Linked DNA regions of Homo sapiens: region 2 is linked to region 1. Evidence: fine-mapped expression QTL. A gene starts in region 1. The other region holds a variant in brackets. All regions are shown on one strand. Distances are between the middles of the regions. Region 1 holds the start of RSPO2 (R-spondin 2). Region 2 has its middle 58 kb from the start of ANGPT1.

Region 1 (11,468 bases):
GATTAAGTCATTACATGCCATGCTCCAGAAATTCCAGGAGACCACAATAAAGTTATGATTTGTCTATCCACCTTTCAGTAATCCAGTCTGAAATGTGGCTTACAACCATTCCAAAAAATGAAAGTAATCAAAGAACTCCACTTAACATATAAATCAATCATAAGTGGTTTCAAGACCAAGACAGATAGTAGGGGTTAACAATAGCCAATCATGACTATTTTGAAGGGGGAGTCAGGGAGACAAATCTTAATATGCTACATGGAGAGAAAAATAAGAGTTATTAATCAGCTTTTCAAAATGTTGGCATGTGTCTCCCCTCTAAAAGATATTCATTGTCAGTATTGTATTGTGTTTGTGCCTAATTAATTTTTTAAAATTATTGCAACCAGGCCCCATTAGTGACTATCAAATGCATTTTTATAATTTTTCAAAATAAGGGGAAGAAAATATGGTAGGTAGGTAGTCTTATTGTTCGTGATGATCTCCCCCATTTGAAGTTTTGTCCAAAAGTAGAGACGGTCAAAATACTATTTTCTCAATCGTCTGGCTATATTTTGAAATAAAATATACCGTTAAATGATATATTTGCTCTCCATTCCAAACTGGATGCAATTGATTTTAACTGACTAAATTATCTAATCTCTGCCAAGAATTTTATTTCATTAAGAAAATGATATTATGGAGCATGTGAGATCATAGAGCAGACTAAACATAATGCCAAAGGAGTTCGGAGAATGCTCCACAGTGAAGGTTTGATTATTCGCAGATGGAATATGGAAAAAAAAAAAAAAGAATCAGGTCCCAGGGGTAAGCCTAACCAATCCTGGTACCACTGCCACCTACTTGTAGCACAAAGCCAAGAAAATAACTAATCTTCCAAACTACAACACCTTTTATAAAAAATACCAATTACTTTTCTTCTTGGAAAATAATATTTAACTGACACTATCCAAAACAAAGGGGAAAAAGGGAAATGTTGGTATCACATAGGCCCTAACATGTCAACTGTCACTGCTGACATGATTTGGCCAGTAGTCAAGCATTCACTGAGGAACTAATTGAAATCAATCTTTTTGGGGAAAGCCAATTGTTTGGTATGCACAACAATTGGTGTAGGATCAATCAGTGGACATGAGATCAATTAAAACCAGCTTAAGTTTGTGAAGAGGGACAATTCACACAACTTGAGTTAGATCTCTATTCATTTCAATACTCTCACAATGCAATCCTTAAGCTTCCCTGCAAAGTAGAAAAGCTACTATCACCCTACACTGTCTGGCCAGCCCTTTAAGTAGTTCCACTTTTAATTAAAAACACAGTACACCCTTTGTTGGTACAGATAGTGTGGTCACTTTTAAGGACGACAGTTATTTTAGCCAGAAACTTGGGATTTGTAAAGGGATATCTGTTGAGAAGAAGAAAAAAAGTTTGATTTTTTTTTTACACCCTTACCAATTTACACGTTCTTGAAAGCATTTGAATTTTATTAAATCGAAAGGTTGATTTGGCATAAGTTACTATTGCACAATTTAGAGTTAGACTGTCAGTGCTTTGGGATGTGGATGGTAATCGTTACAAGAGATTTTGCTAAAAGTAAGCTTTGAAATAAATAGGTTCTGCTTCAGATACCTAAGAAGGCATAGGCAGATTCTTAGAGATGGCACTGCAGAGAAGGCATGCAGTATCCCTTCTGGCCGCAGGAGTGCTGTAATGTCCTTTTCCACCAAACAGCATCTCTGCATTAAGTTCTACTAAAACAATATGCTTGGTTCTTCCCCACTCAACCACAATGGGACAGGCAGGGTGGATCAGAAAGCCATCACTGAATTAGCAAGTCATCTAATAAGGATCTGGCAAAGGATTTTAGACATTTCTATATTTTGCAGACTTCAAGCACTTTAGTTTTTCTAAGTAGACTGCAGCTTTGACTTATAAAAAGAGGAAAAGCCTCTCCAAACACTTTTGACCATAATGTAATCAAAAATTGCTGGCTCTGCCGAATACTCGAAAGAAAGTACTGGGATTGAGAAAGGAATCAGGAGGGGAGGAGAGAGGAGATAAAAAGGGACTTTTTCAAGACAAGTATCAATATCAAACTCTCATGGCCTTTGGGAAGAAATTTCTCTCTAGTATTTTTAAGTAAAATAATTTCTGAAAATAAACAATTTCCAAAAGTCAGAAATCGGGGGAGAGGGAGGGAGAGAAGTTGGAGAAGGTTTATTCTTACAAGCCGCAGATACAGAGACAATTGAAGCGCAGGGACTACAGAAGTCGCACACCATCAGTTATTTGGAGCTCTGCGCTCAGGTGGGCCAATCTCTAGCTCTGCCCCTAGGTGAGAACAGCTTAACAATGTCCTAAAAAGCCATCAAAAAAATAAGGTTCGGAAAGTCCTCCTCAAAATCTGGATGCAGGAGCGGAGATTACACACAATGAGTTATAAACAAATCACATCACAGATCGAGTGAGATGTTTACATCTTGGAGAAAAAGTCAACATTCATGAACCCGGCGACAAATTCTAATTGCGCAAAAGTCCAAAGTGCCGAATGAAATAGACAGCTCTCACCAGGTCCCTGGGAAGGGGCTGCTGCGCGCCCTTCCTGCGCGGGTAATTCGATGTGCGTGTGGTGAGTGGTTTATGTTTAAATCCACCCAGAAAATTGAATCGTGTCTAGCCGCCCTTCTTCTAAAATGCAGTTGGATTAGTTGCATCTCCAGCGGACTCCGAGACAGAAATACGCACTAAATCTGCAGGAAAGCGAGTTCCCCGAAACCTTTCTGGAGGCTTCCACCCGCCTTCTCCGCTACGCACAAGTGATGGAGAGGGAGGGAGCAGTTAAAAAGCCGCAAGTGAATTTCATTGAGAACAGAAGCCTCCACCGGTGTGGCTGCTTTTGCAAAGCAAATGGAGAGAGCGAAGTGGGGCCTGTTTTAAAAACAAACCTCTGGAGGCGAGGACTCCCCAGAAAACCAGCGCGGGAATTGCTGCTTAATTCAGAAAGTTCCCATCTCGTCGCAGTTTCCAGAAAAAAGAGATCTATGTTGGCCTTTTTCTGGAAAGGGAGGTCCTCCCCCTCGACTTGGTACCCCTCCCAAGCTCCGGAATACAGACACACGCTTGGGTACACCCACACACCACACACACACTATGCTAGGTCAAGTCCGAAGAGATCTGAGGCCGGGTTTGGGGCGCACGTGGATGGGGAAGATAAAACAAATGAGCTACAGGGAAGATGGTTAGGAGGACAGAGAGAAGAACAACGACGACAAAAAAAAAATGCATGTCAGATAAGAAATACGTCCTAAAGAGACAAGTTTAGATGAGGAGGTGGGGCGGCGAACATGAGTGCGGACCGCACGACTTAGCCCTGAGCGCCCGATTGGCGCCCGGCTCGCCGAGCTCCCAGCGCGTCTCGCTCCGGCTCCCCGCGCCTCCAGGGTACAGAAAACAGAGTGTTTTGTAGAGCTCCAGGGTCCTAAAGGTGGGGACTGGGGACCCGCAAAAGCTGGGGTGGAGAGCACAGCCCTGACCATCTGAGCCCCCGGAGCCAGGGCGTGAGTGAGCGCCTCCACACGCCACCCCTGAAGCCCACCACGCACCTTTGGCAGAGAGGGACCCACCTCGCTTACTGCGTCTCCATCGGTTGCCTTGGCAGTGGCTGTAATCCATGCAGTTCAGAATGATGAGGGCAAAGGAGAAAAGGCGAAACTGCATCTGGGCGGTCGGGCGGGGGAGAGACGCCTCTCAAAGTCTAGGAACTGGAGGGTTCGCCCAAAGAGCCGGCGCCGGCCGCGCTGCTGGGGAGGACTCAGAGGGAGACTCGCCACTCACCCCCGGGCCGCACCGGTCAGTTCAGCGCGATCAGCATCTCTCCGCCACGAACCTGAGAGACAAGAAGCGAAAACAGGGTGTGTGGGGGATGGAGAGAGCCCCGGGGAGGCAGCTGCGCCTTCGCACGTCCCAATTTAAAGAAGAGAGGGAAGGAGGAAGCGAACCCACTGCCTAGCACGAGCCGCGGAGCGGCTTAATCCAGAGCGGGCAGCTGCGGACGAGTTGGAGAGGAAGGTGATTATAATCAGTGAATTAGCAACCTCTGCCGAGCCCTAAGCTCCGACCCAGCGGCATAATGCGTTGTGCCGGCGCTCCGGGGAAAGGAAAGAACTCTAAAGGCACTGAGAGCGCAGGGCTAAAAGAACGCTCTTAGGCCATTTGGAGTCCACGGCGGTGTACCCAAGCGCCGCAGCTGCGGCTGCCTTGGTGTGGGTTGCCTACCGTGCGCACGTCTCGGGCGGCGCGGCCTCCCTAGGCGCGGTGCTCCATCCCGGGCTCGGGAAGCGAGCCGCTTGGTTAGCACGTGGGCTGGGGAAAAGTTTGCCGAGACCGGCTGGGAGCGCCTGGCAGCTCTGGAATTCCAGCGGCCGCCGCGGGGTTGGCGACGCCAGGCAGGAGCGCGGAGCGGCGGGTGCAGCCACTGGGATGCTCCGTCCCCGCCCGCGAGCGCGGTCCCCAGGCAAGGGGTGCGCCCGCTCACACTCTCTGCCTCCCTAACCAATTGTGTCGCTTCCTGCGCTTTCTCCACGGTCACTTCACAGCTAAGATTTCTTTCTTTCCGAGCTGTAGAAGGCAGAACGCTCTCGGGAGGACGAAGTGATCCGAAGGGATGTGGCAAGCGCACTTTCCGATGGAGATGCAGACCGGCTGAGGCTTGGGATGCTTCTATAAGTAGGTGGTGCTGTGGTCCAAGGCATCTAAGTCTAGGCTGCCTCGGAGTTCCTGGGTCCTAAAGCCAGAAACGTCCCGGTTTCCCTGAGGTCCTAAAGAACGTTGACAGCCAACAGCGCGCCTAACTTGGAGCGAATCCTCTTCGGGCTTTCCAGAGTGCGGGGGATAGATAAAGAGTAGCTGGGGAGACGCCCCCTGACCTTGCTGGGTCCCAGAACCCGGCTGCTCACCCCCAAGGGGTCCTCTCCAGCCCTCTAGGGTCAGTTCCAACCTCAGCGCCAACCTTTCTGCAGGGAGATCTGACTGAAGGACTGATGACTCCCTTTAAACTTTTGCAATATGCCACAACTCTGCCACTTTTTAATTTACATCTTGTCTGTGTTTTGCAGGAAGGTATGTTAGCCGGCTGAAATTATTCATAAAACGCGCCCCCACTTTGAGGAGTGAAATGGGTATTCCCAACAGCTTTTGTTCATCCTCAGAACTGTTATTTACTTTGTTTCTTCTCCAATAAAACAAAAACCTGTGATCCGTTGCCTGAAGTGCTGAAGAAGTTGGGGCCTTGATTCTTTAAAAATAATTTTAAAAAGTTCACTTCCCACTAAAGTATTTTTCATTCTTAATCCTCCTCTCATTTCCAAAGTCTCCTGAATTAAACTTTTAGGTGCTTTGGGTTTGGGGAAAATATTCTGTTTAACAAAGTGTTACATTAAATAGACTTGATGCCATCCAATTTCATTCTGGTGAAATCTGTCCTGCATTCACTACTGTAGGAAAAAATGTATTTATTCCTTAAGCAAAAGATAAGAATTTATGCCACTAACCGTGGCAGTATGAATGTCTATAGATATGCCCGCAGTTACCATATTATTATGATAGCATTTTATACTATTTAAATTCCCTTTTCTATTCCTTCAGTTTCAGAAGATGTTCAGAAATTTGATGACTTAAAAGACAATCATATAAAAAGAATATTGCAATACTCATATTTATTAACTATTCCATTATTGCCTATTCATAACTATTTTACAGACTCACTATTACATAGTGGTATTTATGTGCTAAGAATTTCAGCAGTATGCCTTTGATGCATGCCTGAGAACACCCAAGTAAATCTGAGTTGAGGTCATTGGTCCCATTTCATAGATAAGAAAATCCATCACTGAGACTGGCCCACAGGGCACAAATAGAGTTCACAAAACACATTGCAGAAACAGTGGATCTGTTTCTTGACTTTTGAGCCTTTGATTTTTATCACAGAATTTGGAAACATTTCAGTGTAGGGAGTGGCCCCAGTGTTTGGCATAACTTGATATTTCTTGATCATCTTGATATGATGCTGAATATCTCTTCAGCACCATAAATACTACTTCTTTCCAAATATAGTCATATATGCACACAACAAATGAATTATACTTATAAAGGAGTTAAATCTATGGGAGAAAGGAAGTCTTCCCTAAGTAAGCCCCCCTGCCTCCTTGCAAAGCTTTGAGATCCATTCAAGATCAGTGGTCATCAGTGTCTTTTAAAATATTTAAAGGCAAAAGTAAACACAAGACCAAGCAGAGGTAGCGCTACCATTAATCACCTGCGTCACTTTGGGCAATTTTCTTGGTCTCAGTTTCCTTGGCAGTATTTTTAGGAAGTCTGTCCAAGGTCTCTTTCACTTCTACATGTTCTGGTTTACAATCAATTTTCTATTTGTACTAGGAAGTTTGCTATGGTATCTAACCAGTGTAAGGGCAAACTCATCAGTGATGGGTTCTTTGTGTAGAAAGAAGAGGGTTAGCCACTGCCTTCCTTAGTTAAATTTACAGACCACTTCACCCTTATCCCTTCAAAGACAACTTTCCATAATTTTAATTTTAATCTTTTGTGTTGTACAGTTGGTGCATTTTTAGCCAGAGATGCTTTTCAGTTTAGTGAACCCCCAGATTCAGTTCATGAGGAAGAATTTTGACAGTACCACTTCTGTAGAAAATTGGTTAATGTGTTTAGTAAGAAAAGAATAGGCTCTGGAAGAAAGGAAAATTCTTAATTCCTTCTTTTGCTCCCTCCTGGTCTATCTCTGCCTCTTAAAAGACACCAGTGAACCTTAAAACTCTGTCAGACTTAGTTCTTGGGGTACTTGGAGTCTCACACTTAATCACTTTGGGGCTAATTTGTTGATAATGCAGAATTTTTTTTTTTTACATTCACTGAATATTTTTCCTGACTTCAAAATCCCAGGAATGTTCTTGCTACTAAAAAATACAACCCTAATGGATCCTAGACTATCATTAACTTTAATCCCATATCTCTGCTTCCTTTCATTTCTAAACTCAGAATGTGGTGTTGTTGAGGCTCACAGCTCACAGTTTCTCCATCTTGGAGACTCAATGGACTTTTTCTTCAAACTGAGTTTATATAGTGGTTTCATTAAACTGGCTTTGTAAATAGACTTGTGCCTGGGTTCTGTTTACAGAGAAGTATACTGATATACTGAGGAGGTTGACTCTATACCACTCATTGGTGATAGGGAAAGTTAACTGAGGGCAGAAGTGGGGGATGATGTTATAGAGAGGAGATAACTTCTGTATTTTATTTTTTGACTTGTAATTCGTTCATACAGCTCAAAATTCAATCCTTACAAAACACCATAACAGGGCAAAGTCTCTCCTACCTCCTTCTCTCAGGCATCCAGTTCTCCTTAGAGTCAATCAGTTATTCTTTTACAAGTGTTCACGGTTTTTGGTATACTTCAGAAGATGTTTGGTGCTTATCAAACAAGTAACTTGATAATCTTTTTGCTTATCAAGCAAGGAAAGAAGGAAGAATGTATTATATATATGTACATGCACATATATAGGCATACATATAATATGTGCGTATACATATATATAATACATTCTTCCTTCTCTGTTTTATAATATATTCTTCCTCTCTTTTATGCAATTAGTAGAATACTGTATTCACTAATCTGTACCTTGAGGGGTTGTTTTTTTTTTTTTTTTTTGAGATGGAGTCTTGTTCTGTCGCCAGGCTGGAGTGCAGTGGTACGATCCGGGCTCACTGGAACCTCCGACTCCCTGGTTCAAGCGATTCTCCTGCCTCAGCCTCACGAATAGCTGGGATTACAGGCACATGCGACCACACCCAGCTACTTTTTGTATTTTTAGCAGAGACAGGGTTTCACCGTTTTAGCCAGGATGGTCTTGATCTCCGGACTTCGTGATCCGCCTGCCTCGGCCTCCCAAAGTGCTGAGATTACAGGCGTGAGCCACCATGGCATCAGTTCATAGAGAACTGTCCTGTTCTTTTTATATAGTCACATATTATTTCATCGTATGGCTGTATTTAGCCAGCCTCCCTATCAATATACATTTAGATTGTTTTCATACTTTTTGTATCTTAAGCAATGCTTCAATTAACTTTTTCATGTGTCATTTTACCTTTCCATTATAAATTCTTAAAAGTAGAAAAGTTGAATCAAACAGTTGGATATATGTGTGTGTGTTCTGCAAATTGCCTTTCACAAAGGTTCTTTCATATTACACCGTGTGAAAATGCCTATCTCTAGATGCTGACCAACACTTTTTGACTTTTGACACTTGTAGGCAAAAAGTCGTATCTCAGTAAAGTGTTAATTTGTATTTATTTTCTTTTAAATGAAATTTTGTGTGTCTTTAGTATGCTCCATCCATTTGTATTTTCTTTTCCATGAACTCTCTGAAGATATAATTTGCCTATTTTTCTATTGTGTTCTTGGTCATTTGTTTTTGTTTGTAGAATTTGCATGTATTGATATAATGTCTTTTGTGATTTGAGTTGCATATTTTTCCAAGTTTCTTATTTACCTTTTGACTTTGTTTTTGATGTATATTAATATGTAAAAAAATTTTAAATACTTTTACATAGTGCAGTTTGCCAGTCTTATCTTTTATAGCTTCTCTGTGTCATACTTGAAAAAGCTCTTCCTCGCTATTTATGACAAACCCACAACCAATACCATACTGAATGGGCAAAAGCTGGAAGCATTGCCTTTGAAAACCAGCACAAGACAAGGATGCCCTCTCTCACCACTCCTATTCAACATAGTATTGGAAATTCTGGCCAGGGCAATCAGGCAATAAATAAAGGGTATTCAAATAGGAAGAGAGGAAGTCAAATTGTCTCTCTTTCCAGATGACATGATCCTATATTTAGAAAATCCCATTGTCTCAGCCCAAAATCTCCTTAAGCTGATAAGCAACTTCAGCAAAATCTCAGGATACAAAATAAATGTGCAAAAATCACAAGCATTCCTATACAACAATAGGCAAACAGAGAGCCAAATCATGAGAGAACTCCCATTCACAATTGCTACAAAGAGAATAAAATACCTAGGAATACAACTTACAAGGGATGTGAAGGACCTCTTCAAGGAGAACTACAAATCACTGCTCAAGGAAATCAGAGAGGACACAAAGAAATGGAAAAAACATTCCATGCTGATGGATAGGAAGAATCAATACCATGATAATGGCCATAGTGCCCAAAGTAATTTATAGATTCAATGCTATCCCCATCAAGCTACCATTGACTTTCTTCACAGAATTAGAAAAAACTACTTTAAATTTCATATGGAACCAAAAAAAAGAGCCCATATGGCCAAGACAATCCTAAGCAAAAAGAACAAAGTTGGAGGCATCATGCTACCTGACTTCAGACTATACTACAAGGCTACAGTAACCAAAACAGCATGGTACTGGTATCAAAACAGATATATAGACCAATGGAACAGAACAGAGGCCTCAGAAATAAGGCCACACATCTACAACCATATGATCTTTGACAAACCTGACAAAAGCAGTGGGGAAAGGATTCCCTATTTAATAAATTGTGTTGGAAAACTGGGTAGCCATAGGCAGAAAACTGAAACTGGACCCCTTTCTTACACCTTATACAAAAATTAACTCAACATGAATTAAAGACTTAAACGTAAGACCTAAAACTATAAAAACCCTAGAAGAAAACCTAGGCAATACCATTCAGGACATAGGCATGGGCAAAGAATTCATGACTAAAACACCAAAAGCAATGGCAACAAAAGCCAAAATTGACAAATGGGATCCAATTAAACTAAAAAGCTTCTGCACAACAAAAGAAACTATCATCAAAGTGAACAGGCAACCTACAGAATGAGAGAAAATTTTTGCAATCTATCCATCTAACTAAGGGCAAATATCCAGAATCTACAAAGAACTTAAACAAATTTACAAGAAAAAAACAACCCCATCAAAAAGTGGGCAAAGGATATGAACAGACCCTTCTCAAGAGAAGACATTTATGCAGCCAACAAACATATGAAAAAAAGCTCATTATCACTGGTCATTAGAGAAATGCAAATCAAAACCACAATGAGATACCGTCTCATGCCAGTTAGAATGGTGTTCATTAAAAAGACAGGAAACAACAGATGCTGGAGAGGATGTGGAGAAATAAGAACACTTTTACGTTGTTGGTGTGAGTGTAAATTAGTTCAACCATTGTGGAAGACAATGTGGCAATTCCTCAAGGGTCTAGAACCAGAAATACCATTTGACTCACCAATCTCATTACTGGGTATATACCCAAAGAATTATAAATCATTCCACTATACAGACACATGCACACATATGTTTATTGTGGCACTATTCACAACAGGAAAGACTTGGAACCAACCCAAATGCCCATCAGTGATAGACTGGATAAAGAAAATGTGGCACATATACACCATGGAATACTATGCAGCCATAAAAAAGGAAGAGTTCATGTCCTTTGCAGGGACATGGTTGAAGCTGGAAACCATCATTCTCAGCAAACTAACACAAGAACAGAAAACCAAAACCAAACACTGCATGTTCTCACTTATAAGTGGGAGTTGAACAATGAGAAGGCATGGACACAGGGAGGGGAACATCACACACCAGGGCCTGTCAGGGGGTTGGGGGCTAGGGGAGAGATAGCATTAGGAGAAATACCTAATGTAGATGATGGGTTGATGGGTGCAGCAAACCACCATGGCACATGTATACCTATGTAACAAACCTACACATTCTGCATATGTATCCCAGAACTTAAAGTATACTTTTTAAAAAGAGAAAGAAAAAGCTCTTCCTTGTGCCATTATTTTTAGATTTTCATTTAGGAATTTTCCAATATATTTTTTCAATGTTAACACCCATAGGATGCTAGTGATTTTATGACTGTACAGTGTGGGCTACAGTAGAATAGATTTAAAGTTTTCTGAATCTTTCATAAGCATTTATGCTTATAGATTTGGTTGACTTTGGCACTGATTCTTGTTTTCATTAGCTAATTGATTTAGAGTTATCTTTTATGTTATCTGTTATTCATTCTCAGATTTAAAATTTCTCACAATCTTTTTAATCATTGTTGATATTGATTGTATGCACTCTTCCAGTGTAGAATTTATCCTTTAATTGCTTTGGAACAAATTATAGCATTTTTGCCATTGTGCTACTATTGATAGTTTTTTCCTGTTAAATATAAGCACGTCTGTTTTGCCAGTTGCATGTGATAGCCCATGTTCATTTATTATATTTTGTGTGAAGTAATTATATTAATATGAAAGGTCTTCAACAAGGTCACTGACCAGTCCTTATCTAGGCTGATTTGTTGTTTTAAAAAGCCACATCACAATCACTTATTTAATGTTTAAAAAATGTGTAAATATTTGACTCCTCCGAATGTTAATACTGCCTTCTGCCACTTGAGTACTC
Region 2 (11,468 bases), 530 kb before region 1:
TGCCAATTTCTAGATTTTCAAACCTATTATAGTATGCCTTTAAAAAGTGACATGAATAAAGAAAAAATGGAGGCCTGAAATTTACCAATACATAAACAAAATATATGAAACTTGACCTTCAAATGTGGACTATGTTTAGAGAACAAAGGTGAACCTTACACTAGATTGAAAAAGTCTAGACCATAAATACCAGTGAAAGAGCATTATACCGTAATCAACATTTAAATGTTATTTTCAGTTTAGAATTAGATCACAGGGAATTAAATGAGAAGATTTCACTTAACATTCAACTAAAAAAATTAATACTTAAAAACAATTTTCACTGCAGGTGATGCAGACTCCAATGCTAGAACAAAAATGTTTGGACTCGACATAATGTATGCAAAGAAATGGACCAGAAACCCTTTCCTCAAGGAGTTGATAGTCTAGTGTTTATAAGGAATGCAGAATCCAGTTACTGGTTATGGTTTAGGTGCTTTTTTGAAATTATGTGATAGACAAACAATGTTGTACATGTTCTTTTTCTTTAAGAAATTGCTAGTTTCCATTTAAAAGCATTTTTATTTTAACATAAGGGTGTATGTGTATATGCATATATAGGTTGAGTATCCCTTATCCAAAATGTTTGGGACCAGAAGTATTTCCAATTTCAGCTTTTTCAGATTTGGGAATTTTTGCATTATCTTACTGGTTAAGCATTCCTAACCCAAAAACCTAAAATCTGAAATATCTCAGTGAGCATTTCCTTTGACTCCCCATTTCAGCATTCAAAAAGTTTCTGATTTTGGAGCATTTCCAATTTTTGATTTTCTAATTTGGGATGCTCAGCTCTGTGTGTGTGTGTGTGTGTGTGTGTGTGTGTGTATACACACACTAGAGATAGAGATAGAGAGAGACACATGTACAGGATATAGATATATATTAGTATACAATATTTATAATATGTAAGTATATATATATCATATATATCCTTTATATATCTCTCCTGTATGTATGCACACCTGTGTAAATAAGTGTATATATGTACACACATATGTATATATACATATATACACACATATGTATATATACGTATATACGCACATATGTATATATACGTATATACGCACATATGTATATATACGTATATACGCACATATGTATATATACGTATATACGCACATATGTATATATACGTATATATACGCACATATGTATATATACGTATATATACGCACATATGTATATATACGTATATATACACACTTATATATGTGTATATGTACATATATACACACACTTATATATAAGTGTATGTGTGTATATACATACACACTCAGTATATATAAGTGTGTATGTATATCCTGTGTGTTTGTATATATATCCCATATATGTGTGTGTTTATATGTACACACACATTGTATATATAAGAATATACAGTATATATGCTGTATATATAAGTATATTTATCCTGTGTGTATATATATATATATCCCATGTGTGTGTGTGTATATATATATATCCTTTAAATATATATATTTAAATATCCTATAAATATATATGTATATATATTTAAATATCCTATAAATATATATGTATATATATTTATATATCCTTTTCCATTTTTTTTTAATGTAATCATATCAGCAAGCACCAAAGAAAATCAATAAGATTCTGGGGTGCAAAGAAATAACTCACTACCTTAAACTGTACATTCTCTTGAGATTTGACATGAGAATTGTCCAAAAACATCTAATTTTTTATATTAGCAAACTGTATCTGACAAAGGTCTAATATCCAGAATCTATAAGGAACTTAAACAATTCAACAAGCAAAAAAAACAAATTACCCCATTAAAATATGGGCAAAGGACATGAACACACACTTCTCAAAAGGAGACATACGAGCGTCCAACAAATATATGAAAAAATGCTCAACATCACGAATCATTAGAGAAATCCAAATCAAAACCTCAATGAGATACCATCTCACACTAGTCAGAATGGCCATTATAAAGACTCAAAAAATAACTGAGGGCAACTTTGTGGAGAAAAGGGAATGCTTATACACAGTTGGTGAGAATGTAAATTTGTTTACCTGCTGTGGAAACCAGTTTGGATATTTCTCAAAGAATTTAAAACAGAACTATCATTTGACACAGCTGTCCCATTACTAGGTATATACACAAAGGAAAATATTCCACCAAAAAGACATATGCACTTGTATGTTCATCGCAACACTACTCACAACACTACTCACACTACTCACAACACTACTCACATAGCAAAAACATGGAATCAGCCTATGTGGCCATCAATGATGGATATGATAAACAAATGTGGTACTTATGCACCATGGAATACTATGCAGCCATAAAAAAAACAGTGAAATCATGTTCTTTACAGCAACACAAATTCAGCCAGAAGCTATTATCCTAAGCAAATTAACACAGGAACAGAAAAGCAAATACCACATGTTCTCACTTATAAGTGGAAGCTAAACACTGAGTACATATGGACATAAAGGGAACAACACATTCTGGGCACTACTGGATGGGGAAGAAGGAGAATCGGGTATGGGCTGAAAAACCACCCATTGGGTACTGTGCTCACTACCTGGGTAACAAGATCATTTGTACCCCAAACCTCAGCAACACACAATTTACCCGTGTAACAAACCTGCACATGTACCCCCTGAACCTAAAATAAAAGTTGAAAATATTTATAATAATAAAGAAAGCATGATTTCAAAGAAAAAAACAACATAAAACAAAACATCTAATTTTTCGTAAGCGATTATTTTAAAATTATCTATATAACATCTTGCCAAACTTTGAAAATAATGTTTGTGATGCTATTATAAATATGTTTAAGGAGCTAGTATTTTTAAACATGAATTAATTGAAAAAATCACCTGCTGCTCACCATTTAATCAGACAATGAGGGGAGCAGCATGCTTCATTGCACTTATTAGCAGAGGCAAAACCCTGCTCAGTGGAAATGAGATGGCAAGTAAAATAATCATGGCAAAGCCATCTGGAAGGGTTTGCATTAATAAGGTTAGCAATATAAAGGAAGCCACATTTGAAGGAAGCCATCTAGACAACAGAACGGACACTTTCAGGTCCGTTGTAAGAAGGCACTGCAGAAATCTAAATAGTTCTATTAATGTCTTCCTAATATTTGACTTTATGAAACTTGGTTATTCGCTGTGTTATGTTACCATGACCATGTCATATATTAATTCAATTTCTCTCCATTTCTCTGTCCTGATCATTTCACAAATTATAGGGCTGGAAGAGAAGTTTATTTTCCGCCATTCAGCTTGACTCTGTTAGCATTACCAACTATGATGTGACATTAAGGGTCATTCCAAAGTGATACATCCATCATCTGACAGCTTTAGATATATAAAGTTTACAAAATGTACAGTGTTTATGGTCATTTAACATGAAATAAGAATAATTGATAGTCCTTTGTGAATTGTTTTTTGATGAGCTTCCATTTCATCTTTCCTCAAATGATTCAGAATTTCCCCCCACTTCCCACTTAGCCCTTTCTTGGCTTTATTTTTTCATCTCTAAAGAACTTGAAGATTAATATATCTTGAGACTTAAGTGATATAGGAAGAAGGGGGAGATCAGGGATATATATGAAGCTTTGGTTGAATATCAAGCACTGTGCTAGGTGCTATATTATGTCATCTAATTTCTACAACTTCTGAGGCTTGTATTACTGTCCCTATTGTATAGATCAACAAGCGGAGGCTCAAAAATATTAGGTAATGTATCCAAGTCTTGCAACTAGCAGGTGGCAGAAACAGACTTCCCCTTCAAACTTAGGTCTTCCCACTTCACATCTAGTGCTTTTCCCACTAATCACAAACAGGTCATCAGAATTTCCTCACTCTGGCCTTCACTTTGCTAATCTAGCATTTACCACCCAGGAAATGTCCAGGATTTGTCTCACTATAAAATGGTCATCACTTTTGAGAAGTGTCTGTTCATATCCTTTGTCCACTGTTTGATGGGGTTGTTTGATATTTTCTTGTAAATTTGTTTAAGTTCTTTGTAGATTCTGGATATTAGCCCTTTGTCAGATGGGTAGATTGCAAAATTTTTCTCCCATTCTGTAGGTTTCCTGATCACTCTGATGGTAGTTTCTTTTGCTGTGCAGAAGCTCTTTAGTTTAATTAAATCCCATTTGTGTACTTTGGCTTTTGTTGCCATTGCTTTTGGTGTTTTAGACATGAAGTCCTTGCCCATGCCTATGTCCTGAATGGTATTGCCTAGGTTTTCTTCTAAGGTTTTTATGGTTTTGGGTCTAACATTTAAGTCTTTAATCCATCTTGAATTAATTTTTTATAAGGTGTAAGGAAGGGATCCATTTCTGCTTTCTACATACGGCTAGCCAATTTTCCCAGCACCATTTATTAAATAGGGAATCCTTTCCCCATTTCTTGTTTTTGTCAGGTTTGTCAAAGATCAGATGGTGTTCTCAAAAGAAGACATTTATGCAGCCAACAGACACATAAAAAATGCTCATCATCTCTGGCCATCAGAGAAATGCAAATCAAAACCACAATGACATACCATCTCACACCAGTTAGAATGGTGATCATTTAAAAGTCAGGAAACAACAGGTGCTGGAGAGGATGTGGAGAAGTAAGAACACTTTTACACTGTTGGTGGGAGTGTAAACTAGTCCAGCCATTGTGGAAGACAGTGTGGCAATTCCTCAAGGATCTAGAACTAGAAATACCATTTGACCCAGCTATCCCATTACTGGGTATATACCCAAAGGATTATAAATCATGCTACTATAAAGACACACACACACGTATGTTTATTGTGGCACTATTCACAACAGCAAAGACTTGGAACCAACCCAAATGTCCATCAATGACAGACTGGATTAAGAAAATGTGGCACATATACACCATGGAATACTATGCAGCCATAAAAAAGGATGAGTTCGTGTCCTTTGTAGGGACATGGATGAAGCTGGAAACCATCATTCTAAGCAAACTATCGCAAGGACAGAAAACCAAACACCGCATATTCTCACTCATAGGTGGGAACTGAACAATGAGAACACATGGACACAGGGTGGGGAACATCACACACTGGGGCCTGTCGTGGAATGGGGGGAAGGGGGAAAGGATAGCATTAGGAGAAATACCTAATGTAAATGATGAGTTAATGGGTGCAGCACACCAACATGGCACATGTATACATATGTAACAAACCTGCACGTTGTGCACATGTACCCTAGAACTTAAAATATAATAATAGTAATAGTAATAATAAATGGTCACACTTACTTGATGACTTTATTCTTGAGAGTTTCCATTGAGCTGACTAAAGGAGGTTTAAATTTAAAAAATGCTCCCAGAAAAAAAAGGCATATGGAGAATTACTACACATAAAAATTCTCTGGTTAAGAGCTGTGATTATGAAAGAATTGTAGTAGCACCACTAAACTAAGTCTAGAACCTAGAAGAATTCAATACCTCATTGAACATCTCATCTCCCTGTTCAAACTGATTTGTATGCAGAGTGAGTAAACATTATTTAATTTAATCCTTACTATGGACAGATGAGGGAAGTACCATGATTATCTACATTTATAAGATGATCTCAAAAACCAAGGCTTAAAATAATTAAGTGCAGCCAGGCGCGGTGGCTCACGCCTGTAATCCCAGCACTTTGGGAGACTGAGGCGGACGGACTGCCTGAGCTCAGGAGTTCCAGGTCAGCCTGGGCAAAACAGTGAAACCCTGTCTCTACTTTAAAAAATACAATAAAATTAGCCGGGCGTAGCGGCGTGCGCCTGTAGTCCCAGCTACTTGGGAGGCTGAGGGAAGAGAATCGCTTCAACCTGGAAGCAGAGTTTGCAGTGAGCTGAGATTTCGCCACTACATTCCAGTCTGGGCGACAGAGCGAGACTCCATCTCCAAAAAAAATTAATTAATTAATGTAATTAACTAAGTGCCTTGTCCAAGGTTGCACAGCTAAATCTCACATGTGCTGAACTATAACATTATAATCTTTCTGTTCAAGTTCTAGTCCTTTTCCCGGAATTCTT[T/C]GAACATTTCTTTTTCCATCAGCTCATTTTCTTTTTCTTTTTTTTTTTTTTAATTTTTTATTTTTAATAAACATGGAATATTTATTAAAAGTTAAATTAAAATGTTAGGCTTCATTTTTTTGTTTTAATTGTCAACAGCTCTACTAATATTGTGATTGACAGTATTGTCTCAGTCCTTTCCTGGGCATGTGCACAGTCCTGAGTATGTGTGTAGCCTCCTAGATTTCTTGGTTATGTTTAGCTTTGCAAAGTTCCTTATGATCATGTCAGTCCTCAGTATTTTCTTTTGTATTTTGGTCAAGTTCTTGTTCCTCCCAACAAATAAAGCCACATTAGGCAGCTGTGATGTTAAACAATTGCTGTTGATTATTTTTGGCAAAATCCTGAGAAGAGGGCTCTTCACAAACAGCGAGAGCTCCAACTAAGGTCAGATAAAGACAAAACCTGAGAATAGTGCTTTCTAACAAGCTGCCAGACACGTAAAGTAGTGACAAATCTCTGCAGACAGGACTTCTAGGGAGTTCCTACCTTATTCTGCCTCACTTAGTGGCTGCCAAACTGCTGGTTTTAATAGCTATTGCATTTGGAAGACTAGATTTCTTTTTTTAAAAAAAATTATTTAAATATCTTTTGGGGTACAAATGATTTTTCGTTACATGGATGAATTATATAGTGGTCAGTTCTGAGATTTTAGTGCACTGGAGAGGAGTTAAGGATAAAAAAACTACACATTACATTACTACATTACTACACAATGTATGCTACTCGGGTGTCCATCAGCTCATTTTCACACTGTCGTTCCCTGGCAGTCCCTCACCACACTTTGCTTAATGGCAATAAACCCTTTTACCAACTCCATTTACTTAATTTCTGTCTCCTGTTCTTAGATCTTCCCTTGGACTGCTCAGTGATTCCACAGAATGTTTTCTCCGGCAGTACTGTCTAATTGAAGAGCTCCTTAAATCCTTCCCTTCCATAAACATTTTCCAGGCACATGATAGGAAAAGAAACATTTTACCTATTTAATGTAATGTACACATTTTTATTCATAAACATTCTCATACAAATAGCCAGACAAAACGACAGTTAGGTCTTTGTATATTAATCTAAGACTCTTTCATATTTGAACACTTTATTAACTTTGTTACTTTTGAGTTAAAATCTTCTCAAAGCTGGTAATTGTGTCTGATAAGGCAAATTTGGTAGAAAGCCCATCACAGGGCCCCTCATATGTGGATAATTGATGAATAAATATGCCAAATGGCAAACTACAGCACATAAATCTGAGAGGTGGAGTCCTAATGACATTGATTTATTCATTAAACAAGCATCATTTGGCACTTATTATGTTTAAGAGCTTGTGCTAAGTGTTCATGTGCTCAAAGTGGAGAATTAATTAATATCACCCGATTTATTTGCTCTAGTTCTTCTCTAAGTTGAGTGTGATTGCAGATATCAGGTACCTTCTCTATTCCTCAGTTTCTTATTTTATAATGAGGGATTTGGTGATTCCCAAGGTCCCTTGCAGTTCTGTAGGCTCATGATTCAATGTGGTTATGTCATTTCCTAAATTGAGAAGTCATATCTCTTAACTTTCCAAATTAGATATGGCTTAATTAACATAGTTACATAACTGAAAGAAAATTTTAAAAATGATACATGAATGACAATTACTATCTTGGATGTACTATGGGTTTCTCTCAGCAATATTTTAAGTATAGATGAATCATAAACATGAGGATTATATTTCTCCTAAAATAAACATGGCTAAAATCTCAGATGATATTTTCTTGGCAAAATGCACTTCAGATTTTATTGAACTAAATACATTTGAAAATCAGATGCTACACTAAGAATACGATATTCATTCAATATTCATACCTTTGAAATGAAGTAAATTAAGACAATTTGTTGGGTATTTCAGGCTGAAAAGCTTACTGCTTTTATTCCCGTGATATTAAAATAAAAGTAAATTGGGGACTTAGTCCATTTTAAGGCCCAAACCACAAAGGCCTTACTACTCCTCACATCTATTGCATGGGTTTCTTTGCCCACAGTTAAACAAATTCCTCTATACCTTTTGCCTCTCTACTGACCATTTCTTTCAGACTGGCTTCACTGAACACTGACTCTTTCCATAAATTCTCAAGGTCCTCTGAAGAGTAGGTGTTCTTTCTCCCACACATCATATAGTTCAGAGTTTCCAAATTATATTCAGCTCATGACTCCTTATCTTCATATAAATGAATGAATGAATGAATGAATGAATAAATAAATAAATAAATAAATAAATAAATAAGTTTCCTTGAAGCTTCTTGCCAGTTGGCTAAACATTCTTTTACCTATTCTTGACACTATCTCCTATCATCCTCCTGGTCACTTCTCCCAATTCAGTATAACTTTTGGCACCTGCTTCAAATCATTTATTTCCTGCTACTCCAAGTAATATCAACTATTATTGTGTTCCTCTAACCCTGAACACAATAATATTGAACTTGTTATCTTCTCCTTTCCTTTACTTATTATCCTTCTCATGTATCTACCCAGAAATCTTCCACTTCTGAAATTAAAAATTCCTTCAGTGTACTGTGGAACCACAGCTTTCTACTCTTCCCACAAATTTCTCCAATTTCCTTAGACTCCAAATCACAGATCTTTCTACTTTCTACTCTATTAATCACTGCTTTCTTTTTTCTCCATTACATCTATGATACATTGCTTCAAAACTTCTTCCTTGACACTGTCCTTGGAAACACCTCTATCCTGAATGAAGTCAACTAGCCTGTGAATACTGTTTAGGAAATCACACAGCTGGTCATTGAACCAATGGTTAAGCTCTCTCTTCCATTCTTGAACTGTTAACAAAAAGAGAAGCAATTGAGTCTCATGGTAATATCAACCACTCGTTCTTCAAGTCATTCTTCCCTTATAACTCAACTCTCAATCTGTTTTCTCAACAGATAAAATATGTCAGAGAGGCACTTTGTTAACTTTTATACAAAGGGTGGAAAATGAGACCAGATGATCCTTTTAAACTTCATATCCTTAGAGTAGAAACTCTCTCTCTTCTATAGAGAGTTGAAGAGTAGCATTTATTAATTATCACTCATCAATTTCCTCAGGAACCCATAAACCCTAAGAGGTGCAGGGTAAAACTCTTTTGTTCTCCTTTGTAAACTTAGAACCCAGCACAATGACTAACACATAGTAGAAATTCAAACAATATTCAATGAAAGCATGAATCAATGCCTGGGTGATGATCAGGGAATTTCTGACAAATATGTTTGTGAGTTGAAACTTGTAGCTAATTGTTTCAGTTGCATGCTTGTTATATGATTTTATTTCAGCAAACTATCTCAAACCATTTTTATGAGTCTTTGGTTTTAATATAACTCAAAATACACTCTGTCAAGTACGTTTCTCCATAGACTTTAAACATAGGTTCTTTCAGGTGAAATTTAATCCTAATGTTTACAATTCATCCACACTTAAATCATCAAAATACCACTGTAGCAATCTCAGTTGGGTATTCAACTTGTGATTCCCTAATTAGATAATTGTTTGTATATTTAAAACAAAATTATTACTTGCCCTTAATTATTTAGATAATTGTTTAAATTATATACTTTTTGTCTTGTGTGTTGAAAAGCCATAATCACACTAAAATACATCCTAATTTTAGGATACTTCAGTCTTTATATTGGGGAATACAGTTTTTGATATAACAAATGAGAATTTTAAATGTGGTCTTTTCAATAGAGGCCTATTTAATGATTAATGTATAATCCATATAAGTCATTCTTAATATAGAAAAATATTTTGATCAGTTTAGCAGTTTTCACTATTTCTGGTCATTTTAAAATAATTCAGTTGTCAGTCTCAAGAAAAAATGATTCTCATATTGCAAACAGAAAATCAAGTTGGAACACTGAAAGCAGCTTAGATCTGAAATACATGGAAAATTACAGTAAGAAATTAAAGTTTCCTGGAATTTTGTTTTTCTTGTCTTTTTACAGGACTTTTCCATGTCACTCAAACCTTGTGTCTTTCCTTTCCCCTTCTCACTCTCTCTGCTCTAAACATACTGGCCTTGACAAGTCAAACTGAAATTTTTTCTATGAGACCTATGCCTCTTCGATATCCTGAGAAGTATTCCTCCAGATAGTCACATGGCTTCTTTCAATTAAGTTTCTATTCCAAAGTCGTCTCTTAAGAGAGTCTTCCCTAATCACCCTAGACAAAGTAGTCATTTCCTCCCACTTGACCATTCTCTTCTTACTGTGCTTTATTCTTATCTTAGTATGTGTTGCTAACTTCACTACCTGGATTTGTAGAATACATTTTTTTTTTTTTTTGAGATGGAGTTTCTTGTTGTTCAGGCTGGGGTGCAATGGCGCAATCTCGGCTCACCGCAACCTCCGCTTCCCAGGTTCAAGTGATTCTCCTGCCTCAGCCTCCCAAATAGCGGGGATTATAGGCATGTGCCACCATGCCCGGCTAATTTTGTATTTTTAGTAGAGACAGGGTTTCTCCATGTTGGTCAGGCTGGTCTCGAACTCCCAACCTCAGGTGATCTGCCCACCTTGCCCTCCCAAACTGCTGGGATTACAGATGTTAGCTACCACACCCGGCCTAGAATACACTTATTAATTTAGTTGTATACTGTCAGCTTCTCCTGGCAGGACATGGGCTGTGGCTTCTCAACTACTCTATCACCCAGTATTTGTGGAATGAATGAATGAATGAATGAATCTTCAATGTTAGTATTTAAATAGTCCTTTTGCCATTTCACCTTACTGAGTTTTACAAAGGCCAAGGGGAAAACAAAGTGTGCAAACATTTCTGAGAAAAAAGGTAAGATAATGCTATAGCATTTACTATGGTTCAAATGTGTAGCTAATGTTCAATTCTGTTTCATGTGTGTTCTCAAAATACTTAAAAGCTTGAGATAAGGCACAGCAAAAGAAGTACTTTTTCACTGATAGAGAAACAAAGAGAGTCAATATTTGGACCCTTCTCTGTGTAAAGAATGGAATGATCTAGTCTGGATAAATACTAAATATAAATAAAAGTTGGCTTCTTGCTAATTACATTCCACAATATAAATTTTGTTTTCACCAAACAGTATTTTAACATTTTAGAATACAAAATACTGTTTCACCAAACAGTATTTTAACATTTTAGAACATTTTAGAATATAACATTTTAGAATACTGTTTCACCAAACAGTATTTTAATACTTTAGAATTATAACATTTTAGAATAAAAAATGTTATTCACTTCTAAATGATGCTCTTATTTTTCCAAAATTCTAGGAAAATGATGCTAGAAATTGGCTGGGAGAGGATTAAGAGGATACAGAGGCTATTTTAACCATTTTACTTAAAATTGTATCCAATTGTT

What was found. PIP is the estimated chance that this variant, and not a neighbour inherited with it, causes the effect.
Region 2: its variant is the best candidate, but not a certain one, in a credible set for the expression of RSPO2 in coronary artery (GTEx, PIP 0.74).

The regions. Positions count from the first base shown.
Region 1 is chr8:108,078,922-108,090,389 of GRCh38, forward strand. It overlaps RSPO2 (R-spondin 2), which reads right to left and starts at 4,699. Exons shown (of 6, transcript NM_178565.5): 1 at 4,276-4,699; 2 at 3,624-3,886. The coding sequence starts at 3,717. RefSeq lists silencers at 2,720-3,014, 3,555-3,730 and an enhancer at 2,892-3,838.
Region 2 is chr8:107,550,299-107,561,766 of GRCh38, forward strand. No RefSeq gene overlaps it. Among named protein-coding and RNA genes, the nearest start is that of ANGPT1, 58 kb to the left of the region's middle. The variant T/C (reference allele first, on the strand shown) is at 6,066.